2 linked regions of the Homo sapiens genome follow. The protein of the gene in region 1 interacts with the protein of each later gene in a pairwise test. Each region holds a gene or a part of one and is shown on either strand. Other genes may lie near its edges.

The links.
Region 2: the proteins of CALN1 (region 1) and SLPI interact in binary tests that used the Homo sapiens proteins (3 or more experiments, as listed by UniProt).

Annotation. Positions count from the first base shown.
Region 1 is NC_000007.14:72,405,593-72,422,207, reverse strand, and holds the start of CALN1 (calcium-binding protein 8), read left to right. Parts: upstream 1-9,869; 5' UTR 9,870-10,150; intron 10,151-16,615. UniProt on the Homo sapiens protein: Negatively regulates Golgi-to-plasma membrane trafficking by interacting with PI4KB and inhibiting its activity. May play a role in the physiology of neurons and is potentially important in memory and learning.
Region 2 is NC_000020.11:45,248,661-45,264,879, forward strand, and holds SLPI (antileukoproteinase precursor), read right to left. Parts: upstream 5,905-16,219; 5' UTR 5,884-5,904; coding exon 5,799-5,883; intron 5,074-5,798; coding exon 4,915-5,073; intron 4,492-4,914; coding exon 4,342-4,491; intron 3,760-4,341; coding exon 3,755-3,759; 3' UTR 3,579-3,754; downstream 1-3,578.

The sequences.
Region 1 (16,615 bases):
CAGTATGGAGATTCCTTAAAGAACTAAAAGTAGATTTGCCATTTGATCCAGTAATCCCACTACTGGCTATTTACTCAAAAGAAAAGAAGTCATTATATGAAAAAGACACTTGCAGATGTATGTTTATAGCAGCACAATTCACAATTGCAAGACGTGGAACCAGCCTAAGTGCGGGTCGATCCACAAGTGGATAAAGAAAATGTGGTATATATACACCATGGAATACTACTCAGCTGTGAAAAGGAATGAAATAATGTCTTTTGCAGCAAGTTGGATGGAACTGGAGGCCATTATCCTAAGTGAAGTAACTCAGGAATGGAAAACCAAATGCCATATATTCTCATTAATAAGTGGGATATTGGGAGACTGAGGCTGGCAGATCATGAGGTCAGGAGATCGAGACCAGCCTGGCCAACATGGTGAAACCCTGTCTCTACTAAAAATTACAAAAAAATTAGCTGGGTGTGGTGGCATGTGCCTGTAGTCCCAGCTACTTGGGAGGCTGAGGCGGGAGAACCACTTGAACCTGTGAGGCGGAGGTTGTAGTGAGTGAGCTGAGATTGTGCCACTGCACACCAGCCTGGCTGACAGAGCAAGACTTAGTCTAAAAAAAAAAAAAAAAAAAAAAAAAAAAGTAGGATAAAATGAAATCTTATCATCTGAAATATGATGACTGTTATAAGATAAAATAAAGACAAAATGACACCATGAGAGTTCATGTAAAAGATAAAGCCAAGAAGATAAGATGTTAAAAGCAGAAAGGTTGATGAAGAGAGAGAAAAACAATTCGGAAAAGGTGAGGATTTACGTTAAGGATGAAGAATAAGAATTATTCTTTCGGTTTTCCATTCCTGAGTTATTTCACTCATAGCTAAGCTGTGAGGATAGAAAAACATACAGAGCGATCTAATGGACTGTGGGGACTCAGGGTGGGGAGAGGTTGGGAGTGGAGTGATGGATAAAAGACAACATCTTGGGTACAGTATGTGATGGGTGCACTAAATCTCAAAAATCACTGCTAAAGAACTCATCCATATAACCAAAAACCACCTGTACCCTAAAAACTATTGAAATAAATTACCATTTTTTTAAGAAAGGAATCTGATCTCTGGAAAGTTCCCAGACAATGCTCACTCTAAAAACGCACTGGACGCAAAGGAAAGTGCAGTAAGAACCTGCCCGGGTTTCTAGACCCAGAACTCCCTGGAAATTGGGAAATTTGGGTATTTACCCAAAAGGAAAGAAGTTATTATATGAAAAAGGCCCTTGCAGATGCATGTTTAAGATGCATCCCGGCCAGGCGTGGTGGCTCATGCCTGTAATCCCAGCACTTCGGGAGGCTGAGGCGGGTGGATCACTAGGAGATCGAGACCATCCTGGCTAACATAGTGAAACCCTGTCTCTACTAAAAATACAAAAAATTAGCCGGGCGTAGTGGCGGGCTCCTGTAGTCCCAGCTACTCGACTGAGGGAGGAGAATGGCGTGAACCCGGGAGGCGGAGCTTGCAGTGAGCTGAGATCTCACCACTGCACTCCAGCCTGGGCGACAGAGCGAGGCTCCGTCTCAAAAAAAAAAAAAAAAAAAAGATGCATCCAGATCAGCCTGGAGCAGGCCTGGTAAACCTGTCTTCTGCAGAGGCACTGTTGCCTTTGGGGGAATTTTTTAAAAAGGTGATTTCTCATGACCTGAAACAGGTGCCCAGGTGAATGCCAGCTCCTCTCCCTCTCGGTGTAGCCCTGCTTCCCTCCTTAAGGGGAGCCCTAGATTCAGATTTCACTCTGAAGTGAGTGAAGCCTCCCAGCCAGCATCTACTCAGCAAAATCTGCCCCTGTTTGGGGTTGCAAGAGGAAGTGTTGCCTGTGGGGTTTAGAGCCAGGTCATGTAGTTATTTCATGCTGGGCTCCAGCCAAGGCAGGATGGACCACTTTAGATCGTGCCTCAATCTTATGAGTCTGGCTACCTCTGTCCTTCTTTTCCCAAGTTTCTTTCTAGTCATGTCTTCATACAACCCAAGGGTGAATGTTAGGGTGGGAGTTAGGGTTAGGGTTAATGTGAGCATCTAACTTGCCCCTTCGTGGGCAGGAACTGAAGTGGCTCATTTCACTCAGCCTGCAGACTGTGGACAGCTAAGTGTTAACGGCTCCGTGAAGGGTCAGGGTGACAGTCTTCTGCACCTGTCCTTTTTGACACCCGAGTTCTTGTTCAGTGTCCAGGAAGAATCAGGTCACATGAACTGTGTGAAAGGTGATGAATGCAGAAGACTTTATTGAGCAGTGGAAGTGGCTCTTGGTGGAGAGGGAGCTGGAAAGGGGATGGTGTGGGGAGAAGGTGATCTTTTCCCTGAAGCTCAGCCATGTCTGGCTGGGCTCCCCTCCAAAACCACACATCTGAAGTTAGCTGCATGTACCTGTAGTCTCCAACGCTCAGTTTTTGCTTCTCTGCTCACTGCTCAGCCACTTGTATCCTTGCCGGTCAGCCACTTGTGTTGCTCTTTTCTCTTTTTATGAGCACAGGATAGGGGTATGGCAGGCCAATAAGGCAATCATTTGGGCAGAAAAATTGGGCCAGCTGTTTCCACTTAGGGCCGAGGCTCCAAGCTTGAGGGTGGGGTTTAGTCAGGAGCCCAGCCATTCTATATCAGGATGACTCTAAGGCCAACTGGGAGAAGTGGGGTTTCTGGGACACCCGTATTCATGCAGTCAAAGCCAAGAAAGGCAAATCAGTGCCTCCCAAACCCAGCCTTAGGGGATTACCTGAGCCAATCCAGACATGAATCCTGAGGAAAATACGGCAGCCAAATGCCCTGCCCCAAGATTCCATGGGTTATCAAAGAAGGAAGACCTGAGGAATCTTCCTTCCCAAAGAAGGACTAGGGAGTGACTGTGCCAGTGGATATGAGGTTCCTTTTGGGAATGATGAAAATGGTCTAAAATGGGTTGTGGTGATCACAATCCATTTTAGACCATTTGCACAATTATCATGTGCAACACGGAATTTTGGAGCAGTAGGGTGAGAACTGTGATGCTTTGAGCAGCGGCAGGGCGTCGTCAGCAGGGCATTCGTGTGTTGTCCAGCTCAACTTTGCACCCACTGGGATGGGCATCCATCTTCTTGGCTGCTTGGTGTTTCTGGGAATCTACTTCTAGGCTTTTCAATGGGTAGAGGTCCGCCAAACCAAAAAACAAAGGGATTACTTGGAGTCTTGCTTTGTCACCCAGGCTGGAGTGCAGTGGCATGATCATAGTTCACTGTAGCCTCAACCTCCTGGGCTCAAGCAATCCTCCCGGCACAGTGTCCCAAGTAGCTGGGATAACAGGCATGCATCACCATGCCTGGCTAATTTTTAAAAAGATTTTTTGGTAGAGACGGGGTCTCGCCATGTTGCTCAGGCTGGCCTCAAACTCCTGGCCTCAAGCAATCCTCCCACCTTGCCCTCTGAAGGGCTGGGGTTATAGGTGCAAGCCACATCACCCAGTGACATAAGAGCTTGAACTACAGGGAGACCCATCCAGATGGGGCTGAGCAAAAGACTAAGAATCTCTGTGGAAAGCTCTGGTAAACTCCAGGAGCCCTATGTGAGCCGGGGCGGGGAAGCTACAGAGGGCGATTGTCCAGAAGTGGTGAATATATGGCTGAGGTACTGGGGATACTGTGGTAAATCTGGGGACTACTGTCTTCCAGAGCCCTGGAGGGTGCAGTGCGACAGTCACCCTGGGCAGAGCCCCTTCCCAAACCCAAAGGAAAATAATTTGTTCTACCAAAAAGACACCTGCACTTGTATGTTCATTGCAGCATTATTCACAAGAGCAAAGACATGGAATCGACGTAGGTGCCCATCATTCGTGGATTGGATAAAGAAAATGTGGTCCATATACACCATGGAATACTACACAGTCATGAAAAAGAATGAGATCATGTCCTTTACAACAACATAGATGCAGCTGGAGGCCATTATCCTAAGCAGATTAATGCAGGAACAGAAAACCAAATACTGCATGTTCTCACTTGTAAGTGGGAAAGAAACATTGGGTACATGTGGACATCAAGATGGGAAGAACAGACACTGGGGGCTACTAGAGAGGGAAGAGGGGGAGGGGGGCAAAGGTTGAAACACTACCTATTGGGTACTATGCTTGCTACCTGGATGATGGGAATGTTTTTACCCTAAACCTCAGCATCACACGATATATCCATTTAACCAACCGGCACATGTACCTTCTGAATCTAAATTAAAGTTGGACATTTTAAAACCCTTAAAACAAACAAACAAAAAGAGGAACAGGGAAAAACAGCTCAGCAGAGGGAGGAGCTCCAGATGAAACTTAGAGACCCAGTGATTCCCTGCATGGGGCTCAAAACACAAGGTCTCTGTGATCATGTTTAAGGCCAGGGTGTCCCAGGGTAGCATGGCACCGATTACCTCAAACCCACTGATGAGGCTCCCACAACCATGACTAATGAACATGAAGAGCTAATGGACTCCTCTTCTTTCTCAAAACCTCTGCCAACTCTGCCGCCAAGAATTATAAGCATTTAGAAAATAATTATACATCTGGACAAATCAGTTTCAGTCTATTGGATTGAACATAATCATATTAAAATATAATGAATACATTCAAACACACAATGCATGATTAAATAGTCACTTAGGAACCAGTGCTGGTAAAGCATGCTGGCTGGTAACCAAGAACTATGTGGCAAGTGCCCACGGTAGCGGGGACAGAAGTAGAAAGCCACCCCAGGCTTGCAACTGATTTCTTTGTCACCTTTGGTTTAGGTTCTCATTTACTTCCTCCCACCCTGGCTCAGGCAAATCCACACAAACTGGTTGTGGTTCCTGCAACCTGATTTTGTTGGCTGGTGCTTAATCTTTGTGTCATTTGGGATGGAAAGGTGGAGTGGGGGAGGCAGGATGTTTTTGGCAGGCTGATGGCCAGAGACCGCAGGGGTCTGCCCAAGGTCTCTGCCAATCCCATTGCACGGGGCATCTCACTCATGTCCTCCCTCGGGAGGCGAGGGCACCAAACAGCAGTGGTGCTTCTCAAACGCTTGTTGTCTTATTATCCTTGGCCTCCAGATCACGGCTGGGACCGCCCTCCGCCTGTACTCACTGAGCATATCTCCAGGTTTCTGGGCCTGGATGAAGACTCAGGCTCTATGGGAATCCCGGGGAAGCTGAGCTTCCATCTGGCAGCTGACCTGGAGACCTGAAGCATGCCTTGGCAAAGCACACCTTTCCCCACTGACTTGCCCTGGACCAAAGACTTGGTCTCAGCTCTCTGTGGCCTCTTTGTGCCCTGCACTTCTCTGCCTCCTGGCCTAGCCCAGCCCAGCTCAGCCCAGCCCACCCCAGCTCAACCCTCGGCTGATAGATGCTGACATTAATGCAGGAGAGGTGGGTCCCCAAATCGGGATGAAGCCCGGGAAGGTTCTTTTTGTTATTTGTTTTTTTTTTTTTTTTTTTTTTTTTTTGAGACAGAGTCTCACTTTGCCGCCCAGGCTGGAGTGCAGTGACGCGATCTCGGCTCACTGCAACCTCCGCCTCCCAGGTTCAAGTGATTCTCTTGCCTCAGTCTCTTGAGTAGCTGGGATTACAGGCACACACCACCATGCTCAGCTAAGTTTTGAATTTTTAGTAGAGACAGGGTTTCACCATGTTGGCCAGGCTGGTCTTGAACACCTGACATTAGGTGGATCTACCTGTCTCAGCCTCGCAAAGCGCTGGGATTACAGCGTGAGCCACCGTGCCCAGCCGGGTTCCCGGCTTCACTCAGGAAACAATTTAAGGCTGAGCCAGTGGCAGAAGAAAACAGCTTTATTGAGGTAGCAGCATTACAGCTCTGTGACTACTCCTGCAGAGCAGGGGTACTCCATAGGCAGTGTGTGGAGAGCAGCAGCTCAGGGGCAGTGCTGCAGTCATATTTATACCCACTTCTAATTATATGCAAATTAAGGAGCAGGCTATTCAGAAATTGTTAGAAGAGGGGTGGTAACTTCTGGGTGTTGCCATGGCAATGGTAAACTGTCATGGCACTGGTGGGTGTGTCTCACGGAGAGGTGCTTCCAGGGCCTCTTCCCTATTTTAGCCAGTCTTCAGTCTGGTCTGGAGTCAAGTCCTGCCTCCCACCTCAACATCACAGGTGGAGACTGGAAAATGTCAAGGGTAGGGCGAAGGGAACGGTACAAGCATTGGTGATCAGCTTCAGAAGCAGACCCACAACCTTAAAAGAAATGGAGCCCAGGGCTGGGGCTGTTTGTTTTTGTCCTGCCTCTAGATGTGGGATCCTGGTCCCTGGGAACAGATCAGACTCAGGCACCTGGGTGGGCACTGGCCAAAGGAAGCCCTAGGTGAAGGAGCGTGGTGGTACCTGCAGGCGGTGTCACCGTCCAGTAGCGCAGTTCTATGCCCCCCGCGCCCCCCGTACCCTCACGGGCCTCTGCCCCACTGCCTGGGACCCTGCTGTCTTAGTCACCGCTCAGGCTTCCAGCATTTTCCCAGGAGGATCGACGAAACTGAGATTGTGAGTTGGTGGCTCACAGGCCTGGTTCAGCCCACAAACAGGTTTGTTGTTGTTTCTTCTTGTTTACTTGTGTGTTTGTTATTTCTTCTTGTGTTACTTGTGTGTTGGTTTTCTCCCAAAGTGTTTTGAAACTTAGAAGTTGTTGCCAGCATTTAAAAAATCAGCTGATTTATTAACAATCTGGATTTCCAGCTCCTCTTTAAATCATGACATCTGGCAATGCCGGGCCATACTCACTCATAGCAACAATGGATGGGTGATGAGTCGTGGCTACCGCCTTGCACAAAGGGAGCCACTTCCTCGTGGTCTTTGCCTCTTGGCATGACTGCTGGTCCCTGTAGGCATTTGAGCTGGCATGCCCCGTTTTATAAGAAGGAGAAAATACAGGTGCATCTGGAGTGGATGACACAATGGTATGAATTAGACCCAGGTGCTCCCACAGGGAGAAAGATCTAGGTACCTTGTAGTAGTCTGCTCAGGCTGCCATAACAAAATACCATAGACTAGCGGGTGGGGAGCTTAAACTATACCTTAACAGCTGTTATTTTCTCACAGCTATGGAGGCTGGAAGTCCAAGGTCAAAGTGCCAGCATGGTCAGGTTCTAGGGAGGACTCCTTTCCTGGCTTGCAGACAGCTGCCTTCTTGCTGTGTCCTCACATGGCAGAGATAGAGATCCCTCTCTTCCTCTTATAAAGCCACAGTCCAATTGGATTAGGGTTTCACCCTTAAAACCTCATTTAAAATGACCTCCCCAAACCCCTATCTTCAGATATAGTCACATTGGGGTTGAGGGCTTCAACGTAAGGATTTGGAGGAGGGACACAATTCACTCCATAGCATATGTGGAATTCAGGATATATATTTGGGGGCTGGGAAGGGAAATTAAATGACCAGTGGAGTCTTGGGCCATCCAAGCATGTCACAAAAATGGAAGGAAACCATTGCCATGAAATGGATGAACTTGGCAACAGAGAGGGGTACAGAGCTCATGTTCCCCCATCTACAGATACTGCTTCTCAGTCGTCCTGGGAGAAATACAGCTTATGGCAAATTCAGGACATCCTCCCTTCAAACATTTGCTTGAATTATCCAGACTGGGGGCCAACACTGGACTTCCAATCTCTGCTGTTCTGTAACGTCTCTGGGAAGTTCTGTGCTGCCATGCTAGTGTTAGGGTGGAGTGGGGAGTGAGTTCAGGGAGGCTGGTGTGAGGGTCTTGCCACCACCCATCCCAGGACCCCTGGTCTGGCATCAAGAAGGCACTGGCCTGCAAGAGAAGCTGTGTGACCCTGGGAAGCCACTCAGCCTCTCTGTCTCGCTCTACCCAATTGTGAACTAGGGGTTGATCAGGTCAGTTTCTTTTGTAGGTCACTCTTCATGTTGGTAGATAATTTTAAGCCCTGGTTAAGGACACTGCTCTGTAGTAGGTGCACAGAACGAAGGATTCGGCCCCAGGACTCAAGGAGGCCCATGGGCCTCTGGCTCCAGCATGGGTCTCTTGAGCTTCCCGCCAAACTCTAGGATCCTGGATCTTCCCACGGTCTGCCTCCAATGAGTGAATCCGTCTCATACCTCACTGCTCCTGCTTGGCGAGGGTGATGGGAAGATACGGTATTAGTGGGTAATTAAGTTATTAGCTGCCAAAGCTTAATTGCTCTCAGGAGTATTTTAATTGTAGCAGGGGACTCAAAAACAGAAAGCCTTGGAGACAGCAGACATCATGGAAACAGAAGGAAGGGGGAGTATATGTGAGGGTGCATGTATGGGAGTGCGGTGTGTACGTGTGTATGTATGTAAGAGTGTGTGTGTGCATGTGTATACGAGTGTGTGTGATGTGTGTGCATGTTTGTGTATGTGCCATGCATGTGAATGCATAAGTGGGAATGTTTGCGAGTGGTGCGTGTCTGTGTAGTGTGTTTGTTATGTGTATGTGTGTGCATATGTGCTGTGCGTGTGTGTATAAGTGTAAGTGTATATGTGTATGTGTAGTGTGAGTGTGAATGTATATGTGTATGAGTGTGTGCATAACTGTGAGTTTATATGCGTATGTGTAGTGAGAGTGTATATATGTATGTGTGCATGTGTTAGTGTGTATATGTATGAGTGTGTGTGTGGTGTGCATGAGTGCATGCATGTATGAGCTTGTGAGTGTGCGTGTTTATGAGTGTATCTGATGTGTGAGTTTGTGTCCTTATGTGAGCATGTGTGGTATGAGTATGCACGTGTGTCCATGTGTGGTATGTGAGTCTATGTGAGTGTACGTGTGTGTAAGAATGTGCATGTGTGGTGTGCATGTATGAGTATGTTCGTGGGTGTGTGTGGATGAGTGTATGTAAATGTATGTGTGGATGTGAGTGTATGTTAGTGTGTGTATGTATACGTGTGTGTGTACATGTGGTGTGTGTGTGCATGTGTGTGTGAATGTATATGTGTGTATGTGTGGTGTGTGTGAGTGTATATGTGTGTATGAGTGTGTGTGTGTGAGTGGGTGGGCACAAGTGTCAGTGTGTACATATGAGTGTATGTGTAAGCATGTAAGTGAGCATACGTGTAAGAGTGTATGTGTGCATATGTGTCTAACAGAACCTGCCTCTGTGATCTCTGCCAGGGCGTCCATCAGTGCAAACCCCCCGGGTGAGCCCAGGTCTGAAGGTGGCCACCAGCCACTGGCCTACTCCAGGTGGGCTTAGCGTGAGCCAGCACAGCCATCAGAGAACCTTCTCGGAGCTAGACCAGCTGCCCCAGGAGAAAGAGGGTAACCCTAAATATTATCCTACCAGGAAAGCCAGGCCTGGGGCTGTGGCCTCCATGGTCTGGGTGCTTCCTTTTGGAGGTGGGAGATGGATTCTCCAGGGAGAGCTGGGCCACCAGATATTTCTCTGTCCTGTGGCTTGACTGCTTCTAGAAACTTCCTGGGCTGAAAGCAAGGGACTTTGACAAGGGCTTGATTTGGAATGTGGGGCATTTTTATTGTTCCAGTTTGTTTTTCCCAAAGCAGGTTCCATGGGGGAAGGGTGAGGGGACAAGGGCTGGGGCTGCTCCTCCAGCAGTGGCCCCTGGGTGTGAGAGGTGAAGCCAGCTGGGCTTCTGGGTCAGTGGGGACTTGGAGAACTTTTCTGTCTAGCTAGAGGATTGTAAATGCACCAATCGGTGCTCTGTGTCTAGCTAGAGGATTGTAAATGCACCAGTCAGCATTCTGTAAAAATGGACCAATCAGCACTCTGTAAAATGGACCAATCAGCACTCTGTAAAATGGACCAATCAGCACTCTGTAAAATGGACCAATCAGCAGGACATGGGCAGGGCTGAATAAGAGAATAAAAGCTGGCTCCCCGAGCCCGCTGGGGAAGCTCGCTGGGGTGCTATCCGCTTGAGTTTGTGTTTTTTTCTTTCCTGCTTCTTAATAAAGCTTACTGCTTACTCTGGGTCCGCGCCACCTTTAAAGCTCACGGCCGCGGTCTGCGTCTTCGTTCTTGAAGTCAGCAAGACCGCAAGCCCACCGGGAGGAGCAGACGACTCCGGACGCGCCATCTTTAAGAGCTGTAACACTCACCGCGAGGTCCGTGGTTTTATTCTTAAAGTCGGCGAGACCAACAACCCAGCAGAAGGAATAAATTCCGCACACAGGTGGGCACAGAAACTAAAGAGCATGGTGGGCTCAGCTGCATGCAGTTCCCAGCTGGGCCAGGTTTGGGAGCCATCTGGGTACTTTCATAGTCTGGAGACAAGTTCCGGATTATGGTGGTGTTTTAATCTATGATTTTTTCTTTATCGGTTTATGATACCTCTCTAAAAGAGAGTTGCTTCATCAACTATTTGGTTATCCTGGAATATAATCTGTATGGAAAAAGCAGGACAATTGTTTGGTTCTTTTCTTATTACTTTAAAAGAGTAATTACTTTATTCCTTAGCAATTACATTCATGTCAATTTTCAGGATAATGAGTTGTACCATATTTGGTGATTGGCTGTGTCTTCCAGTTAGTTTCTCTGTCATTTGGCATCATTGAGAACTTATCCACTTTTAGGCCTGACAAGACTTTTCGTATTTCCTCCCATGGAGCTGATTACTTAGCCGGAAGTGGTATTTTGAGACTACAATTTGAGTGCTCATTGCCTGAGTTTTATTACCTTGACGTCTTTTCAGTGACACAACTGATACGTCCATATTTTTTTAAAGACAAAAATAAATTGAGTTCACAGTGATATTTTTATTCAAACTAGATTTCAGAGTTTTTACTTAACCTTAAAATTGTTATATTTACAGCTCTTTTCTCTAACATAGAAAATCTTGATTCCTAATGATGTTACATGAATCTCTTTTGTATGATTTCTTTGTGGTTCTTTTTGTCCTGAGACTTAGGTCTCACGTGGAAAGCTCAGTCAAAATATTATGTTCTAAAGTAACTTGAAAAAAACGGTTTTCTCTGTAGTTAAGCCATTAACTTGAAATACAGTTGTGTTTGCATGTTTCAGTTCATTTTCTATTTTAAGGAATTGCTTTGCTTTTTCCTTTTGATAGTTTTTTTCAAATCTGTAAAACCTTTATGTTTGCTCTTATAAATAGGCTCTGCTCATACATTATCTTCTGTTTCTACACATGTCCTGTTAAATTCTGTATGTTGGTCTTATTCTAATGCTTTACTAAATTCACCTATTATTTGTAATCGTTTTTTCATGAATTCTTTGGGATTTTCCATACATATAATCATATCACCTTAAAATAACTTTATTTCTTTTCCCATCTTATGCCTCTAATTGTCTAATCATGTTGGTTAATGCCTACAATACAGTGTTAATAGTAGCAGAGATAGTAAACATCCTTGTATTTTTTCTGATTTTAGCAATAAAGTTTCTAGTGCTTCTTGGAAAGTAAGAAGGTAGGGTGCTGGCTCGTGAGCTGATACGGAGGTGTGTGTATTTATGTTCAGGAAATATATATAGTTCCCTATTTTACTCTGATTTTCAATGTTAATTTAATTGTGAGCCGTTCATAGGGTCTTGGTTTTCATTTTGAAGAACCAGGGTTTAGGGTGTTTTGCTTATGCGAATTTAAGCCAGGACATGAAGGGACATTAGGGCTCCTGAGAAGTCTCACTTGCAGAAGAATTGAGCTGATTTGAAAAGCTCATTTCAGTTTTCAGATGTGGACTTAAAATTTTGGCTTTGCTTGTGTATATATTTTATTTCCGTGATATCTAATTGGTTTTGGGCAGAGATAGGGAGAAAACAACTTTGATTTTACATCATGTAGAAGGATTTCGCTTTTGCATCTTTCAAGGAATTCCATGGACATTTTCTACGTCCTAGATTGGCAGTTTTAGATTTCTTTTTTGTGCTTTTGAATACATCTTAGTAGTAAGATATTCAAAATGATGGCCAACAATCACCTTTGCAGAGTCAGTAACACAAGTGCAGTGATGAGACTTCATTGCTCATAAGCAGTTAAGTAGATTTGACAACCTCTCTTACATATTTAAGAGCTCCAGGCTCTCATGTTCCAGCAAATGCAGGGCTTAGCTTTGGGGCAGGCTGGAGCTCACACTCTGCCCTGTCGTCTTTTTTGTCAGCAACTCGTACCCCATTACACACCATATGGCATGACCCGCACAATGGAACATTTTGTCCAAAAGATATCTTCAAGAAAGAATTATGTTCAGTTATAACAAAAATAAATTCTTTTTGTGGGTTAAATGTGGTGCATCTTTGCAGGGTTTTAGAGGAAAGGACCAAGGGGAAAACCATTATCAAGCATTACAGGGAAAAAACTGATTATAATGTGGCCCTCAACAATTGTAAAATCTAGCAGAGACCACAAGATGCAAAAGAAAAGACTGTAACTTGATGCCCAACGTGGTTAAAAGGGAGGGAACGTTCCTTGGTGATTCTTTGAATTGGGTCTTCGAGTAACAGCCTGGGAACCACTGTTCCATGGGGTCCCAGAGGCTAAAAACCATTTAACCCATGCTTATGAATTATTTATGCCCATAAACAATGCAGGTTCATCCCTCTCCATTCCCAAACATTAGATTTTCAGCTCAATCTTGCTCCCAGTGATTGGAATTTTAGATACTTTGAAAGGGATCAAATCCATGAAAGACTTTGGTGTGCTGAGTCTGCTTGTAACCCATGCACCAGATTGGTTGCTGAAGGCCACAGACGCTGAAATAATGAGGTTGGCCAGTCCACTCAGACTATCCATATGCCTCCTTCCTCAGAGGCTGGCACAGAGATCCGTTTAAGATTATACTCTGCGCCAGCCTCTGAGGAAGGGAGGTATGTGGATACAGTCTGAGTGGACTGGCCAACCTCATCATTTCAGCCTCTGTGGCCTTCAGCAACCAATCTGGTGCATGGGTTACAAGCACAGAGGTCCATTTAAGAGTATGCTGGGCCAGGTGCAGTGGCTTCTGCCTGTAATCCCAGCATTTTGGGAGGCCGAGGCGGGTAGATCATGAGGTCAGGACTTGGAGACCAGCCTGGCCAAGATGGTGAAACACTGTCTCTACTAAAAATGCAAAAATTAGCCAGGAGCGGTGGCGGGCGCCTGTAATCCCAGCTACTGGGGAGGCTGAGTCAGGAGAATCTCTTGAATCCGGGAGGCGGAAGTTGCAGTAAGCTGAGATAGTGCCACTGCAGTCTAGTGTGGGCCACAGAGCAAGACTCTGTTCCACCGCTGCCCCCCTGCCCCAAAAAAAGTATACTTGGGGCCAGGTGTGGTGGCTCACACCTGCAATCCCAGCACTTTGGGAGGCTGAGGTGGGTAGATTACTTGAGCCCAAGAGTTTGAGACCAACCTGGGCAACATGGTGAAACTGCATCTCTACAAAAAATACAAAAATTAGCCAGGAGTGATGGTGCCCGCCTGTAGTCCCAGCTACTGAGGGGACTGGAGGTGGCAGGATCACTTGAGCCCGGGAGGTTGAGGCTGCAGGGAGCTATGATTGCGCCTCTGCACTCCAACCTGGGTGACAGAGTGCAACCCTGTCTCAAAAAAAAAAAAAAAAAAAGGAAAAGATAATAATTGGTGGTCATTTGTATGTCTTTTCATGACCACCATGCAATCCTTGCATGTAACAAAATTGCACTTGTATCCCATGAATTTATACAAAAAATTATCCATGATGACCAGGGCCTTGTTGGTTTTGTCACCAACATCACCAACATATTCCAGTTACGCTCTCTGACCTTCACGTCTAGAGAGTCTTTGTCTTTATTATCTCTGTGTGTGTGTTTAATTTTTTTCTGAGACCGAGTCTGTTGCCCAGGCTGGAGTGTAGTGGCGTGATCTCAGCTCACTGCAACCTCCACCTCCCGGGTTCAAGTGATTCTCTTTCATGCCTTACCCTCCTGAGTAGCTGGGACTACAAGCGTGAGCCACCACGCACTACTAATTTTTTTTTTTTTTTTTTTTTAATAGAGATGGGGTTTCACCATGTTGGCCAGGCTGGGCTCAAACTCCTGACCTTGGGTGATCCACCCCCCTTGGCCTCCCAAAGTGCTGGGATTACAGATGTGAGCCTCCATGCCAGGCCTACGGTTTGTTTTTAACGTCAATATGGAACCAAAGGGAACTGGCATTGATTAAATGTGTGTTCAATATATGTTTATTGAACACCAATTATTTCAAGGTTGCTCCTGCCTGCGCCTAAATGCCATACAGTGCATATTTGCATACCTAGTGCCACAGAAGGGGAGAATCAAAGTCTCCCTTCTTGGATACTCTCAGGAACAAGCTGATCCTCCAGACTGAAGGAGTAGGGACAATCTTCCCCGGTTCCGTGTGTTTGTGTCTGAGTTTCCAGCTTGACTCTCTGAGCTCCGTGAGGCTACATCTGTGGTGGATTCATTTCCACACATCCCACCTCCATCCGGCCCTGTGTCCAGTCCAGCGCCCATCTGAGCTGAGAAGCTCAGTCAGTATTAGTGCAAAAAGAAAAAATGGAGAATGATAGTGTATTAGTCTGTTACTGCACTGCTCTGAAGAAATCCCTGAGACTGGGTAATTTACAAAGAAAAGGGGTTTAATGGGCTCACGGTTCTGCAGGCTATACAGGAAGCATGGCTGGGGAGGCCTCAGGAAACTTACAATTATGGTGGAAGGCCAAGGGGAAACAGGCATGTCTTCACATGGCCAGAGCAGGAGGAGAAGAGAGGAGGGAAGCAGCAAAGTTGTTTGCACACACTTGCAACAACCAGATCTCATGAGAACTGTATCACAAGAACAGCATGAAAGTGGGAAAAATACACCCCCGTGATCCAGTCACCTGTTACCAGGCCCCACCTCCAACATTGGGGATTACAGTTTGACATGAGATTTGGGTGGGGACACAAATCCAAACCGTATCAGGTGGCTAGCATATGTAGCACCTGCTCTGTGCCTAACACTTTACAATAACTTTAAAAGGTAGGTGTTATTATCAGGTTCATTTTGCAGATCAGGAAAGTGAAGCCCAGAGAGGTTAAGTCACTTGCCCAAGGTCACACAGCCCCTAAGTGGCACAGCCAGGATTTGAACTGGATGGTCTAATTTGATTAGTGATGTTCTTAACAATATTACTTCACCATTCTCTGCATATTGTGGGTTGGTAAAAGTGATGCAGGTGATAGAGTACTCAAAGCGTAGACCCAGGGCTACATCACTTTTTGGGTGGATAAGAGTGCCTCCTACTGGTCTGAGCCCTGAAAGAGTGACTGGGCAGTGTTCCAGGGGCATTTTCAGTGCTAAAGGAAGTGGGTAGGTCACCTATTGGAATGAAAAGCTGACAAGGGGCTGGCGCGGTGGCTCATGTCTGTAATCCCAGCACTTTGGGAGGCTGAGGCAGGCAGATCACTTGAGGTCAGAAGTTCAAGACCAGCCTGGCCAAGATGGTGAAACCCGTCTCTACTAAAAATACAAAAATTAGCCAGGCCTGGTGGTGTGCACCTGTAATCCCAGTTATTTGGGAGGCTGAGGCAGGAGAATGGCTTGAACCTGGGAGGCAGAGCCTGCAGTGAGCAGGGATCACGCTACTGCACTCCAGCCTGGGTGACAGAACAAGACTCCGTCTTAAAAAAGAAAAAAAAAAAAGCTGACAAGGACCCTCATGTGGGTCTAGGAATTAGCCCAGAGATCTAACTTCAAGACTGGGGCTCAAAAATCCAGCTCCTTCCGGCTGACCTTTCAGATGACGATTGTAAAGGCAATTAGCAAATGGACTTTAGAGGACAAATTCTGGAAATTAATCACCCTTAGGAATCGCATCAGGAAATGAGATAACCGGTTAATTTGGGGACAAGGAAGCTCATTGGGAAATGCACCTTGGGTCCCAAGATGCATAAGGCTGTGAGGACTCAGGAGGTGCCTGTGTCTTGGAGAAGCTTCCAGTTAAATTGGGGGAAGATGGAGGTCTGTCTTATGTGCAGATGCCAACATGGGGTGCTTCATTAGTTGGCCGACGGTGGTTAGTCCGGCTTGTGCAGGGCTGCTTGGCTTCCCTCGTTACGCCAGCAGGCAGCTGTGACTGGGAGAGGGGAATTCTGGAGAGACGGCTTCTGGCTATGGGAGCCAGCTCCATTTTGGGTCCCCTGGCTTTGTGTTTCTCTGGCACATCGCGAGTGCCGCAGTGAGGGCACCAGAGCCAGCTGAGCAGCAGGAGCGATTGTTCCTTACGGGGAGCTGCCACCTTCAGTGCCGTGCGCCTGTTGAGCTGTGGGCAGGTTCCAGGTCATTAAGTGTATTGGGCTCAGAAGCCTGGCGACCATCAGCTCCCGACAGTTCTCATCTGGGTGCCTTGCTCTGATGTCCACACTGCCTGGGGGGACCTGACAAGAGAAGGGACTCAACATATTCAGAAGTTTTTGCATATGGGGAGCTAATTACTGCTTTTTGAAATATGCATTTACCACCAATCACAACTTCCATGGTGCTGGGGACTGCCATGGCAACTAAAAGCATATCTGAAAATAAAATGTCATTTTTTTTTTTTGCGTTTCTACTGTAATGACACACTTGCTTCTCCTGTTTAACTTAACGAGCTAACTAGAGAAGTCTCCAAGAGTTTCGGCATGTGCCGCGTGTGTGGGGAAGTGGGCGTTGTAGTGTGTGTGAATA
Region 2 (16,219 bases), on another chromosome or scaffold:
GAATTGACACCATCATGAAAGCATTTGAAACTATAAAACTCACTGATAGAACCAAAACACAAGGAAGAAAGAGAAAGGAATCAAACCTTATTATTACAGAAAACCACCCAACCACAAAAATAAACAATAAGAAGGGAAGTAAAGAGCAAAGGATATACAAAAACAACCAGGAAACAATCAATCAAATGATAGGAGTAAGTACTCACCTGTCAGTAATAACCCTGAATATAAACAGATTAAATTCCCCATTTTAAAAATATAGACTGGCTAAAAGGATTAAAAAACAAGACCCAACTATATAGTGAAAACTAACCTCACCTGTAAAGACATACATAGGGTGAAAGTAAAGAGAAGGAAAAATATTCCATGAAAACAAATCAAAAGCAAGCAGGAGTAGCTATATTTATATCAGACAAAACAGACTTCAAATTAGAAACTGGAAAAAAGAGACAAGGAATAGCATTATATAATTATAAAGGGACTAATTTAGTAAAAGAATATAACAATTGTAAATATGTATGCACTCAACAGTGGAGCGTCCAGATATATAAAGTAAATATTATTAGATATTAAGGAATATATAGACCCCAATACAATAATAGTTAGGGACTTCAACACCCTACTGTCAGCATTGGAAAGATTATTTTAACAGAAAATCAACAAAGAAATATCAGATATAAACTGCATCATAGACTAAGCAGACCTAACAGACATTTACAGCACATTTCACCAAATAACTGCAGAATACGTATTCCATCAGCACAAGTAACAATGTCAAAAGTTAGCCATAGGGTACAAAACAAGTCTCAAGAATTTTAACAAATCAAAATCATACCAAGTATTTTATCTGACCATAATGGAATAAAACTAGAAAGCAATAACAATAGGAACATTTAAAAGTATACAAATACATGGAAATTAAACAACATGCACCTGAATGATAATGGGTGAAGAAAGAAATTAAGAATACAATTTCAAAATTCCTTGAAATAATCAAAAATATAAACACAACATACCAAAACCTATGAGACCCAGCAAAAGCAGTATTAAGAGGCGAGTTTATAGCAATAAATGTCTACATTAAAAAACTAGAAAGGTTTCAAATAAACAACCTAATGATGCATCTCAAGGAACTGGAAAAGCACAAACAAGCCAAACCCAAAATTAGTAGAAAGAAAGAAATAATAAAGATCAGAGCAGAAATACACAAGAGAGAGACTAAAAATTACAAAAGATCAACAAAACAAAAAGTTGGATTTCTGAAAAGATACACAAAACTGGCAAACCATAAACTAGACCACCTAGGGAAAAAAAGAGAGAAGACTCAAATAAAATCAGAAATGAAAAAGCAGACATTACCACTGGTGACACAGAAATACAAAGGATTCTTAGATACTATTATGAGCAACTATAAGCTAACAAATTGGAAAACCTAGAGGAAACTGATAAATTCTTAGAAATGTATAACCTATAAAGATTGAACCAGAAAAAAATTTAGAAACCATGAGCAGTTCAATAATGAGTAATGAGACTGAATCAGTAATAAAAAGCTTCCTAACAACAACAACAAAATCCCAGGAATGGAAGACTTCACTGCTGAGTTCTACCAAACTTTTAAAGAAGAGTTAACATCAGTTCTTCTTTAAACTATTCCAAAAAATTAAGGAGGAGAAAGGAGAAAATTCTCCCAAACTCATTCTATGAGTCCAACATTACCCTGATACCAAAACTAAATAAGGGCACGTGGACACACACATGCACACACACACCAAAAAACTACAGGCCAATATTCCTTATGAACATAGATACAAAAATCCTCAATAAAATACTAGCAAACTGAACCCAACAAGACATTAAAAAGATAATACACTATAATCAAGTAGGATTTATTCCAGGGATGAAGAATGTGTTTCAACATATATAAATCATTTATGAATGTTTTAAATAAATGTGATACATCACATCAACAGAATGAAGGACAAAAAGTCCATATGATTATCTCAATAGATGCAGAAAAATCATTTGGTAAAATTCAATATCCCTTCATGATAAGGACTCTCAATAAAGTAGGTATAGAAGAAAAGTATCTCAACCCAATAAAGGCCATATAGACAAACCCACAGCTAACATCATACTGAACTGGAACAAGAAAAGCATGCCAACTCTCACTGCTCTTATTCAACTTAATATTAGAAGTCATAGAGCAATTAGGAAAGAGAAAGAAATAAAAGCCTTTCAAATTGGAAAAGAAGTCTAATTATCCCTCTTTGCAGATAACATAATTATATCTACAGAAGAACCTTTAGACTCTGCAAATAAACTCTTAGAACCAATCAATGAATTCAGTAAATATGCAGGATACAGCATCAACATACAAAAATCAGTAGCATTTCTATACAGCCCTACAGGGCTTAGTGGGTGTTCTCCCTGTGTGCAGAGACAAGAGATTGTAAAAGACACAAGACCAAGAGATAAAGAGAAAGCAGCTGGGCCCAGGGGACCACTACCATCAAGATGCAGAGACTGGTAGTGGTGGCTGTGTCTTTAGCTTTGCAAGCTTTTTAGTTTGAGGTAGTCCCACTTGTCTATTTTTGCTTTTTTTGCCTGTCAGCCCTGCTTTCTTTTCCCTGTCACAGGTGTCACTCCCCAGGACACTCCCCAGCAAACCCCCTGTTCACAAACATTTGCCTCTGGGACTGTTTTCCAGAAAACCTGACCTAAGGAAGATTATAAAAGTTTATCATTATCCAAAAATTGGAGAAGAAGAGTAGAAAAAAAATAGTACTGTCACTTTTTCAGCATGTGTTCTGTATGTAACCCAGGAGTTTATCTCATTTCAACGCTAGGTCTCCTCCCCCTGCAAGGTGCTACTTGGGGCACACTCCTAGTAGCGTATTTGCCCGAGCCTAGGTTCCTCAGTCTGGAATAACCCTTGCTGGAGGTGAGAAAAGTATGTAGCAGAATGGTCCAGTGAGGTTTGGGGCATTCCAAGTCTTTCAAAATAATCGAGAGTGGGCACTGACGTAACATGGTTAGTCTTTTTGAGGACTCCATTTGCTGTGAGTTGCAGATAATCTTAATTTTTCTGAGTGTCCAGAGAGTGTTGGTTGGATTAGACAACAGACAGACCTACAACATATCAAGTGTGAAAACCAATATATATATCGTAACACATACAGAGGTGAACACAGGAATCTGCCCCAACAGTTCTGTATGGCTTTAGATGAAAACCCCCTGGATTAAAATAGCTTAACTGTTGGCAGGATCTCTTATGCATAAACTCGTCTCAGGAAAGTTTTTCACCTGCAGTTGACAATCCTGCCAGAGGCAGTAAAATTGAGGTTTCTGATTCTTCATGTTATTGTACATCCCTAATCCCATTGAAATTTAGGAGATAAAATCACTTGTCCCAAATCACAGAGTCAGCACTTTCACACTCATGATATAAATTCAAGTTCCCCCAGTCCCTAAGCCTCTTCCTCCCACTACGTATTCATAGGAAGGAGGCCTCATATCTAGATCTTCCCTCACAGCTTCCCACCCCACTCATACCCCCAACGAATCACAGAAGCAGGATGTGCAAAGAGAAATAGGCTCGTTTATTTATTCATTGATCAACTGGCACTTCTTGAAAGCCTGCTGTGTGCCAAGCCTTTCCCCAAAGGAGGATATCAGTGGTGGAGCCAAGTCTCAGGGTGGAAAGGACCTGGACCACACAGAGCAGGACTCCAGAGCCTCCTCCATATGGCAGGAATCAAGCTGTGAGAGAAAATCAGATAAGAGCTTCAGCATAGAAACCAGCCAAATCATATCCACATCCTTCCTCCTGCCCAAGGATCCTTCTGAGATAGAGAAAATAGCAAGATAGCGCTATAGTTGAGAGAGACTTAGTGTCAGGAGACAAGTCTCATTTTCACCGTAAAACTCTAAACTCAAAGCATTGAACTAGATAATCCTCAAACTCCACTGATCCTTTGTGATTTCACCTCAGAAAACATGATGGAAACAACCTGAATAATAAATTCTTAGTGCACATAGTGCTTTGCAGAGCACTTTCAATCTCATTATGTACATTTTACCGATAAAGAAACTGAGACTCAGAAAGACACTTGCCCAGGACCCCCACCCAGAGACACTAGAATAGAATCAAAGCCACAGGCGATCCTATGGAAATCCTGGCCCTGAGACCTGGAGAACAGTTCTCTTGAAGGACAAGGGAGTCAGACAGAGGCTGTGCTTGGAGTAGGGTTCAGGAGTCCCCCTGCCCATATGCCTGGGCCTCCAGAGGGTTGAGGCTGAGAGGGCTGGAGGGAGCTCAGTGTGCCCTCATCCCCTGCTTACCTTTCACAGGGGAAACGCAGGATTTCCCACACATGCCCATGCAACACTTCAAGTCACGCTTGCACTGGCCATCCATCTCACAGAAATTGGGGGGGTTAAGCATCAAACATTGGCCATAAGTCACTGGGCACTTCCCAGGCTTCCTCCTTGCTGGGTGAGAGTGAGGCTACCGGTCAGAGGCCTTGTACTTTATACAACCCCTCCCATCCCCACTTTTTAGAGTGAGCCCCTGCTCCAGCTTCAGCAGGGGGGATCATCCCCTCCCCACCTCTATCACCACCACCTTCTCCCTAAGGCGGCCCCCAAACATAGCACCTGGCTCTCCTAGAACTTCAGGCCCCCCATTGATGCAGGTGGCCAGCCACCCAGTGCTGACTAGGTGGGAGGCTTCCAACTACCTGGCTATCTAAATGCCCGCTGCTTCACCAGCTGCTGGCTACCTTCCTGCTTAGGGCAGTGTGACTCACTGACGGATTGACAAGGAGGCCTGGCAGGACCCATCACCCAGTTCCATCCCTCTAATGCTGTGTCCCCAGGCTCACTCCTCTCTACCCAGTTCCCCGACCTGCTTACTTGGGTTTGGGGTGTCAACAGGATCCAGGCATTTGATGCCACAAGTGTCAGGACAACATCTCTTCTTCCCTGGACACTGCCAGTCACTCTGGCACTCAGGTTTCTTGTATCTAAGGCACTGGGCAGATTTCTTAGGAGGACAGACTCCAGCTTTGAAGGCTTTTGAAGAGAAAGTCAAGAGGTCAGGAGGAGGCTGGGTACTGAGGACCCATCATGCCTCCTGAACAAAGCACCACTTTTGAGGGGGAGAGACCCTTACCTCAGTAGCTGTCCACAAAGCCCAAAGGGTCATGCCTGCCTGATCTCCAGGTGTATTGATGGGCTTGATTAAATTAGACAAATGGACAGGGGACGTTTCACACCCAAGAAAAGGGCAGCAGGCTTCTAGTCAAGACCTCCCACCCAAGAGCAAAACAAGGCTACACAAAGGCAGAGAGGAAGGCTGGGAGTGATGGAGATGGAGAGAGGTAAACAAAGATAAATAGAACCAGTGTGAGAGAAGTTGAGAGCTAAAGCCCAAGGCAGAAGCACAGAGACAAAATAGCAGAAGCAAAGACACAAGGAAGCAGAGTCAGAAACTAATGATTTGAGAGTCGCAGACAGGTGAAGAAGAAGGCGGAGTATGAGAGAGAGAGAGAGAGAGAGAGAGAGAGAGAGAGAGTGGGACCTGGGCTGACAGCATGGCTGCATAGAGGAAGCATTTCCAGAAGCTCAAACTGTCACACAAACCTTGGAGCTCAGCCAGACATGTATTCCACCCTCAGGGAGGTCTCCCGAAACTAAGCTGAGGGATCAGAGCCTACAGAAGGGGACACACCCACACCACAAGGAGACCCCACCTCTGACCCTGCAGCCCAGATTAGACCAGAGTGACTCCAACTTACACTTTCCAGAGCCTTCCACAGCCCAAGGTGCCAGAGTTCCCAGGGCAAGCAGCACCAGGAAGGGGAAGAGGCCGCTGGACTTCATGGTGAAGGCAGGAGTGACTCTGATGGCCAATGCCAAACCTCACTATTTATTCTTTCACCAGTGGGTGTGGCCCCACCAGAATTCTTTCGGCCTCTCCCAGCTACTATTGCATAAGCAGGAAACGTAGCCAGAGACCAGAAATCCTGACACCAAGGAGATTGTTTATCTTTCCTATGCCAGGTAAGGCTATGAGGCCAACACAGCAACTATCAGAAAAGAAAGGGAAGAGATTGGCCTGGGAAGTTGGTTGATTAAAGAGGCCATCTCAGTGTCCATCTGAGCCCTAAACATCACAAGATCCCAGGCCATTAGCCTTATAGGTGGAGAGAGGGAAGAAGTGGTCAATTGCAAAGGTGCTACCCGGACCTGGAACTAAAACCAGACACAGACTCCCTGCTGAGACTTTGTGCAATACATTCTATTCTCACATTGCTAATTCTGATTCTCACATTACTGGACTCTCAGGCATTGTGAAACTCTGCTGATTACTCAATGCAGTTTCTTTCTCAAAAGTTCAGCTCGTTCAACCAACTGATACTTAGTTCCCTGAAATATTTACACCGTTATATCCCCAGTGCCTGTTCTGTGCCTGACACAGGAAAAGCACTCACAAATGAAAGCTGAAGAAGAGCTCCGCTCTCCACAAATCTCTCTGGAGCTCAGTTGTCTCAGCTGTGAAATGAAATGATACTAACAAGTCAGCCCTTCTCAGAGGGTTATGAAATTAAGGGCATGAAGGGACTCTGAATGAAAAGAACAAATGAATAGTATCCCTTCCCACTAAAGAGAATTGAAATGAATCTGAGATAAAGGGGGAAAGCAGCTCATCAGTCACTGTAATCTACATTTAGCTGTGAGATAATTTGAGATCTTAGAGGATTGCTTCCTAAAATTCCCCAAAATCCCTTACAGATCTCACATGACAGCAAAAAATTAAACCCATTCTATTTGCTACCCAGTCTGCATAGGTTGCTTCTAATTATAAAGAGAGCGACCATTATCTCTAAAATTCAGCCCATAGCTGAGTGTAGGGTCGCACACTTGCTGTCTCAGCTGCCCAGGAGGCTGAGGTGTATGGATTCCTTGAGAGTAGGAGTTTGAGACCAGCCCTGGCCACATATTGAGACCCCATCTCTACAAAAAAATGTAAAAAATTAGCCAGGCATGATGACGTACGTATGCCTGTAGTCCCAGCTACTTGGGAGGCTGAGCCAGGAGGATCGCTTTAGCCCAGGAGTTTGAGGCTGCAGTGAGCCATGATTGTGCCACTGCATTCCAGCTTGGGGGACAGAGCGATACCCTGTCTTAAAAAAATAAAATAAAATAAAATTCAACCAAAGCTCATCTAGCTACAAACTCCAAGCTCTTGACTCATTATCTTCATGCTTGGAATTCTCCCATTCATTCCTAAGGTGAAGGTTTGTGGAACTTTCCACAGACATGAAAGACCCACTCATTATCAAGTAGCGATGGCCCCACATGAAGTATTTAAGTATTCCACAACCAAACAGGCAACTGGCAGCAGATCCCTTTATACAAAAGTCACTCCATGGTTTGAATTTTGGTGGATCAGAAGACTTGGACATAATCAATCATCAGTCAAATTTTGGTGGAAAAAGAAAAGGAAGAAAATTAATATGCACAAGGTAACTACTATGAGCCAGGTGCATTCACTCTTAGTTGGAGTACTTAGTAGGGTAGGTAAGAGAGAAATGGAGGCTATGATTTCCACCAATGGGTAATGACACTCTCAGGTCAAGATTTTTGTTCTCACTTCCACCACCCAGGGGATAATTTGATTTCTCTCACAGAGTTCCTGTTCTCTCTCTCTCTCTCTCTCTCTGTTTGTTCCTATTTTCCTCAGTGCCACACTCAAGAAATTATCTGGAGTTTTCTAAATATTTATTTCTTAAAGAATGAAAAGGGGCTGGGCACGGTGGCTTATGCCTGTAATCCTAGCACTTTGGGAAACCAAGGTGGGCGGATCACTTGAGGTCAGGAGTTCAAGAGCAGCCTGGCCAACATGGTGAAACCCTATCTCCACTAAAAATACAAAAATTAGCCAGGCAGTGTGGCACACACCTGTAATCCCAGCTACTCAGGAGGCTGAGGCAGGAGAATCACTTGAACCCTGGAGGTAGAGGTTGCAGTGAGCTGAGATTGTACCATTGCATTCTAGCCTAGGCAACAAACTGAGACTCCGTCTCAAAAAAAAAAAAAATTAAAAGGAAAATGCTACAGCTTAAGTTTTTTTTAAATCTGTGATTGACTGATTGCTCAATCTGTGATTGACTGATTAGAGCCAGCTCCTTTCTCATCAGAAAAGAGCCCTGTGCCCAATTAGCAATGTCTTCCATGGGTGTCATAAGAAGATAATAGTATATAATCATTATTATCTTTGACATAATTGGTTCTAAATGTTTACATCATAGAATGTTAAGACTAAAAAGAGGACTTCAAGGGTTTTCTAGATCAGCAAACTACAGTCCTTGGACCAAATCCACCTAGTTACCTGTTTTCATAAAGTTTTATTGGCACATAGCCACACATCCATTAATTTATGTATTGTCTAAGGCTATCTTTCCACTACAATGGCAACAGGGACCTAAAATATTTACTGCACAGCCTAAAATACTTATCGTCTGGTCCTTTACAGAAAATGCTAACCCCTAGACCAAACCCACAGCTTGCATAAAAGAGACTGAATCCCTTAGAAGAAGATCCAGGCCCAAAGCTGCATAGCGGATTAACGACACACACAAGATTGAGCTTTTCTAAAACAGGTTACTCACATGCTGATCCCCAGAACCTGTCTGGTGGAGGACACTTCCACTCCTAACCAAATCTTAACCTGAGACTGACTCATTCAATCTATCTCAAGGCTGGGAGTGGTGGCTCACTCCTGTGATCCCAGAACTTTGGGAGACTGAGGTGGGTGGATCACTTGAGGTCAGGAGTTTGAGACCAGCCTGGCCAACATGGTGAAATCCCATCTCTACTAAAAATACAAAAATCAGCCGGGCATGGTGGTGTGTGCCTGTAATACTCAGGAGGCTGAAGCAGGAGAATCACTTCAACCTGGGAGGCAGAGTTGCAGTTAGCTGAGGTCATGCCACTGGGCTACAAGAGTGACACTCTGTCTCAAAAAAAAAAATCTATTTCACACACCCTTTATTGCCTTCTACCTAAATCCTATAGATTCCTTCATTCATTTATACAAACCATTCACACAAAAGTTGTTTAACATTTCTTACCACATGTCAGGTATTGCACTAGGCCTAGGGCTACAGAAAAGAGCACGCCCACGGAGTCGACACCACATGGTTGTTAAGAACCTGAACTTCAAAGTCAGACTTACAGGTTGGAAGCAAATCACTGAACCTCTTTGAACTTCAGCTACCTCCACTGAAAAATGAGAGTGTTGCTGCCTCTGGAGTCGTACAGTTGTTGTGAGGAGTATTTGGAAAGCACTCAGCAAACTGTCTGGTCCCCTCAGTACATTACACATTGTTTTTATTACCGGCGTGTCCCTGCACACATTAAGCGCACAGGGAGCTGTCAGTCTTTAACTAAATAGCTTAGTCCTTGGGTCTGGACCCATCTGGCTCTGTCCCATTAAATGTTTGACAAAACATGGTCTTATTTCTTGACAAAATAGACCTGATTGGGCCTATTGGTAGGTAGGTAGACAGACAGATAGACAGATCTTAACTGACAGATAGATATAGATAGATAGATAGATATAGATAGATAGATAGATAGATAGATAGATAGATAGCCAGATAATCAACTATTGGTTCTGTTTCTCTGGAAAACCCTGGCTGATGGAACCTGCTTGCCTCTGCACTTCCCAATGCCATTTATTAAAGTTGGTTACATCATTACTTGTGAGGCTGCATCATCCTTTATGCCTTCTCTGAATACTGGCTTCCAATTACTGTCTCAAATGTTGTTAGTGTGGCCGCTTGTCCCTGACTACCAGGGTGCTGGTGACAGGGGGACCCTGGCAGCTGGTGGGTCCTGCACACACCAAGTAGCGGGACAGGGACCCTGCGCACCTCTGGGAGTCTGCACTCTCCCTGTGAGTATCCACATACTTGTGGAGGAGCAACAGTAAATAATTTTTTTAACACCATGGCAGATCTAGAGAGAAACTGCCAAAGAAAGTTAAAAAATTAATTTTAGTACCGTTAACACTTTTTTTCCTGCTTTTGAACAAGCAGCTCCACATTTTCACTTTGCATTGAGTCTTGTAAATTATGTAGCCAGCCCTGGAGGGGCTCAGGGTTGAAGTGAGAGGAGCATCTCATTTGCACAAGAAATGTCTCTGCCTAATCCATTATGGCTCAACACTGACCCGAGAGAGCATAGGTCAATCAGAGGAAAAAAAAAAAGACATCAACTGAAAAGCCCCTTTGGAGTTGCACAGAGATGGCCTGGAAAGCCCTGAGGAAGAGACAGGAGCAGCCACAGGCTCCTGCCAGGAGCCATCCAAGGTGGTAGGATGACTGCCCTAGATTCTAGCAATGGGGGAAGGAGTACAGAGTGAGAAGCACCCCCTTGGACTAGAACCCATGCAGTTCTCAGTCCAAGCTGGGATTCTCTGCCCCATGGCACCATTGATCCTGGCTGGCTTCAGGCACTCCAGGGGAACATAGACAATTTTGAGGAAGACGCCCCAAGGCACAGAGCGACCTGAAGTGTGAGGTGCAGGGAAGGAGCCCCGTTGCTCAGGTCTAAGGAAGAATGTGTTTCGGGTCGCCCCATTCTGATAGCAGATGCCAGCTTCACCCTTAACTAAAAGTCACTGTGTTCTTACCTAAAATTCACTATGTTTCCAAGTCTCAAAACCAAAAAACAACACAGAACAAAAAACTCTTTCAGAATCTGGCAGACAACCAGGTTTTCACAGCTCATTCCTGTGTGAATAAGGCAGCAACTACCTTTCCCTGGGCCTCAGTTCCTCTACCTGTCCCAAGACGGTAACTGTGACTCTAAGAAACAGCTTCATCCTGCTTCCTCTGAGGCCATCAGCTCTCCCCAAGAGCCTCAGCCAATTTTCTGACTTTCATAGTTGCCTTTATAACTTAGCTTAAAATATTGTCTTAAACAAAATACATAAAACGTCAATAATGACCAAATGGGAATGGAGACACAGAGCCAGGGAGTATGGAGATGTAGTAGGTGTGGTGGGGAGAGTATTGGGGAAAAAAAAACCCCGAGCTGAGACAGGAAGAGTAGATGAGAAAGAGATGACTGCAAGGGAGGTGGGGTCATTTAAATCACCTCTGGAAGTGTCATCCACAGGTGGTGGACATGGCAACTGGATCTCCCTAGACCTTCCAGAGAAACAGATGGCTTAGCCACTCCTTATCATTTTCCCACCCAAGAAAGTTTGAATTCTGCAATGTTTGTACTTCCTCCCCTACTGCTCATCATAGTCCTAATAAAATCTGGAAATATGAACTGTCCTTTTAGGCCCACAAGTGAATGGGTGAAGGGCAGTAAAGCAGAATCTGGGCAAGGGTGAAAAACATCCACCATCAAAGAATTGGCAGGAGAAATTAACCAACAACGGTGGATCTCAGGTGTCTTCATACTTATTACCATGCAAGAGATGGTTGGTGTACAGATCAGGGCTCTGCACTTTATTCCTTCAAAAACTGCATGTCTGTCTCCCTAGAGGAAGGGATCCAGTTAACCTAAGGTTAAAGAAACAAAGTCTGTGGTATGTCATGAGGAAATGCTTTAGGGACCTGGTAAAACAAAAAGAAAAACAGTGCTCGGCATTAAGAAACTGCCATCATGACTACCCATGGAAGAAAACCGGGAATAGAAAAACTGGATTATTAAACTGTGGAACAGAGCTATAAGCAGCTTGGGAAAAGATGTCCCCAAATCACTAGAATCCATCTCCTTTGGTTTAGCATGTTTTGTTACATTTAAGCGTCACACAAAACTTGGTAGATACTAATGTCAAGTCAGTTTACAGATGAGAAAAAGTGAGTCTCAGAGAAACGTTCCTGTTGCAGATCAGGAGATGGTAGGGTCTTAGATGGACATGGCAGACGATGCCTGGTTGATCATTACTATGGGAGAGTTTGGTGTCTAAGCCTGGGGTCAGTGGAGAGCACCACTATGAGGACACCTCTGTGGCCCAAACAGAGCAGAGTGCCAGAAAGACCATGAAAGACTCACACTTGATAGCATCACTTCTGGCCTCTGGGACCCTGTGGTCAGCTAGAGAGGCATGACGATGATACTGGACTCAGGACACTGGGCTGGAATCCCAGCTCTGTCCAATTTGATGTAGAACCTTCCTTTCTCTGGGCCTCAGTTTCCCTATTTGTAAGATCAGTGCATTGGAACAGATGCTCTTTAGAGGCCCCAAGTCTTAGATTCTAGCTGGGTTTTTGCCTTATAGAGGACTCTCAGGACCCAGAGAGCCAACTTTCCTGAATAAAAAGCCTAGGAATAGACACCATGCATGACCCCGAACTTCACAGTGGACCAAGCACTTTTATATCCCATTTTAAAGAAAAGGAAATGGAACCTCAGAGAGTAAGCCCACTTGCCCAAGATGACACAGCAAGTCAGAGGTACAGTAAGATTCAAACCCAAGTCTTCAGAATTCAGCCACATACTGCTTCATTATGGTCCCTCCAAGACTTCTTTAGTCCTAAACCCAGAGTTGGAGATGCCTGGGATAGTAGCACTGTCCAGATAATCCTTCGGCGGAAAGTTAAAAAATGATCTTAAAGATGCAAGAAGTGAGAGTGCTGAATAAACCAAGGAGAATAGGTGCTATTTTCAGGTGCAATTTGAGCAAGGGCTCAAACTATAGCTCCCACAAGATTCTCTCCACGGCACTTCTCTTCATGTTGGCTTCATTCTTAGTCAGGCTCCCTCTTAGCATTTATAATATGGCTGTGGCATCTCCTCCCATCTTCCCAAATTCATGTCTAGTAAGGGCTTTTTCTGGGCAACTCAACTAACTAGGAGTGGCTAGAATTAAATCTTTAAACCAATGATTGGGACCAGGGAACTGGGATGTACCGATTGGTTTAAGCCAAGGCCACAATACTCATCACCATGTGTACTCATCCCCAAATCCAGTGGAATTTTCAGAGTGGGAGAGGGAATGATTCTCCTGGGGTAAATTAGGATATAGCTACCAGCAGAAGGGTGAAAGGATGCTCAGTGGTAAAAATAGCAGTGAGTGTTCTCTAAAGTATACCCCTTTTGGTTACTGAAATCTACATAACTAAATTTTTTCAAATACTTTCTAAACCAACATCTACATAAAATGCACTCAACCTCTCTCCCAAAGAAAGACAACAAAATGTCTCTCTGGGTACTATATTCATCTCCAGTTCTGCAATGTGGGTGAAAGCAGTTCTGTCAGTTAAATTTATAGTCTTCACAGATTAAGTTTAATAAGCTTAAGTAAATTTAACCACTTCAAATGCACCCAATATAGAATGGTAGATTGAGGGCGGAATGACTGCAATAAAAAGTCCTATTTGCAAAAGGGAAATATAGGAAGATATATACAAATTGTCACTGGCCCGTAATACGGATTGTACATCCTGTAAGACAGGGATGTGAGGACTTCCTACCTAATGTTGGAGTGATTTCCTTACTCAATAAATCTGAAGAATCCAGTTCTGCTGTCTGGGAGCCTCTCCTTTGCCTGTCACCTTCCATGGCTACATCTTGGAGGAGTATTGCAGAGGATGCCCTTTTGTTGGGGAAGGAAGGGCATCTGCACCTTTTCAAGAATTCACTTTATATAGGTGCAGCAGGATGTGGGGATCGACATGAACAATCAGTGGCCATTATGAGGCTTGGTTTTCATGTTTAGTTGGCTCCTGGTCCATTTGCTTCATATAAAAGCATGAACTAGTAACTATTGTCAGAAATCTCGCCGAGTCATGTTTGCCTTTTATTTATTCTGCTTTACTCCAAATATGCACTTTTAGTCTGAAGATGCATGTCTTAATTTAATCCTAAAAGAAAAAGTCCTTTCTTTATCTCTTTGAATATTACTTCTGTGCCATTCTCTCCAGTCTCTTTCTGGAACTTCCACCGGATATTTACTAGACCTTCTATTTTTATTATCGTTGTTTTGCCTTTCTCTTATATTTTTCTCTTCATCTCTCTGTGCTGGGCTCTGGGTGAATTTCTCAGTACTGGCTAAAAATTCACCAAGTTTTCTTTCAGCTGCATCCAGTCTAAACTCTACTTTATCCAATGTTTTTCCAACTTTTATTTTAGGTTCAAGGGTACATGTGCAGCTTGTTAACATGGGTAAATTGCATGTTAATATTTGATGTACAGATAACTTTGTCACCCAGGTAATACCCAATAGGTACTCTTTCAGTCCTAACCCTCCTCGAACCCTTCACTCTCAAGTAAGCCCCAATGCCTATTGTTCTCTTCTTTGTGTCCACGTGTATTCAGTGTTTAGCTCACACTTATAAGTGAGATGATGTGATACTCTGTTTTTGGTTTTTCTGTTGCTGCTTTAATTCACTTAGGATAATGGCCTCCGGCTCCATCCATGTTGCTACAAAGGACATTATTTCATTCTTTCTTATGCCTGCATAGTATTCCATGGTGTTTATGTATCACAGTTTCTTTATCCAGTCCACCATTGATGGGCATCTAGATTAATTCCATGTCTTTGCTATTTTGAATACTGCTGCAATGAATATATGCACGCATGTGTCTTCATGGTAGAACAATTTCTATTCGTTTGGGTATATATCCAGTAATGAGATTGCTGGGTCGAATGCTAGTTCTATCTAGTAAGTAATGAATTTTTATTTCAATAATCATTTATTTCCAGTATTTCTACTTGGTTTTTTTTATATGTTCATCTGGTAAATCTAAATAATGTACAGTTGTCTGCCACTTTTTTACCAAATTAGGCAGGACAACCCTTAGGCCAATTGTTAGGTATCTGCATTCTCTGAAAATTCAGCCTCATTGCTTGTTTTAAAAGACATAGAAAGAGACTTAGCATCAATAAACAATAAGCACCTAACCATAGCTCTCTTGTTTGATGTTGTTTTTCCTCCCATGAACATAAATCAAATTATCAATCAGCAATGCCTCTATGTGCATTTATGTTTAAGGTCTTCCTCAATTAGACAGCTAACCAAGGTCATCCCCTACAAAATAAGACATACAAGTTATAAATTGGTGCATGCTGGAAAGGAATTAGCATGATTTGCAAACCTAGAGTGTGCCTTAAGATTTTCCCATAGAAAATGGAGGCAATTATATCTCTATTCTGGTGTCTGTAATCCTAGCACTTTGGGAGGCCAAGGTGGGAGGATCGTTTGAGCCCAGTATTTCAAGACCAGCCTGGGCAAAATAGCGAGACCCCATCTCTAAAGAAAAATAAAAGAAAAAAATAAAAATTTAAAAGAAAAAAAATCACTTGTGGAGACAGGGCAAGGAGAAGCTGAGAAAGGAATAAAAACATGGGAGGGGCAGCATGTCCAGTCATCCCTGTTGGTCTAAGAGCAGCAATGCACTTCAAGGGAGAGGCTGGGTGTCCACCTCCTTCTTTTACCAGAAGGCTTGAATTCCCTTGGCTCGAATTTTGCCATTTGTGCAGGTTGGATTCTTCTTAGCAATTCTGGAGAGACTGAGAAAGGTGGTTGCCCTCAGAAAAAAACAGTACAAAGAAGAGTTAGAGAACTCATGGATGGGGAGAGCTGGGATCTGGGGCAACAGCAGCAAATGTCTGAACCAGAAGTAGAAGCCAAGAAAATTCAGTGGTGGCAGGAGCATTCGAAACCTCCCCTCCCAAGAAATGATTTGTGACAGTGTCGGATTGAAGACCAAGATGTTTCTCACATTTTTCCCCCACGGGCTGGCATATCTCCCCAAAGGGAGACATCCATTTACTCAAGGACCAACAAAAAAGAAGCCATGACTTGTCACTAAGGAAGTTGTGGGCCTTGATAAGACATATTAAAAAAAGAACATGGCCTCTGTGGCGGTTGAACATGTGTTTGCTTTGTAATTGTTCATTAAATCTTACTCTTATTTTATGTGCTTTTCCTAATGCATGTTTTGTTTTACAATTTTAAAGTGTTGGGAGAAAGAATGAGTATTGGAAATTAGGCAATTGTCAGCAATGCTGGAACCTACAGGGGAGGCCAAGAGGAGAAAGAAAAATGACCTATCAAACTCTAGAACAAGGAGGATGCAGACCCCCAATTCCACAGCCTGGACTAACATCTCCCAAATTATCCTATATCCTTTCGCTTGATCTCAGTGACATTCATTAAAAGATCACAGACTTTGGAATCAGACTGAC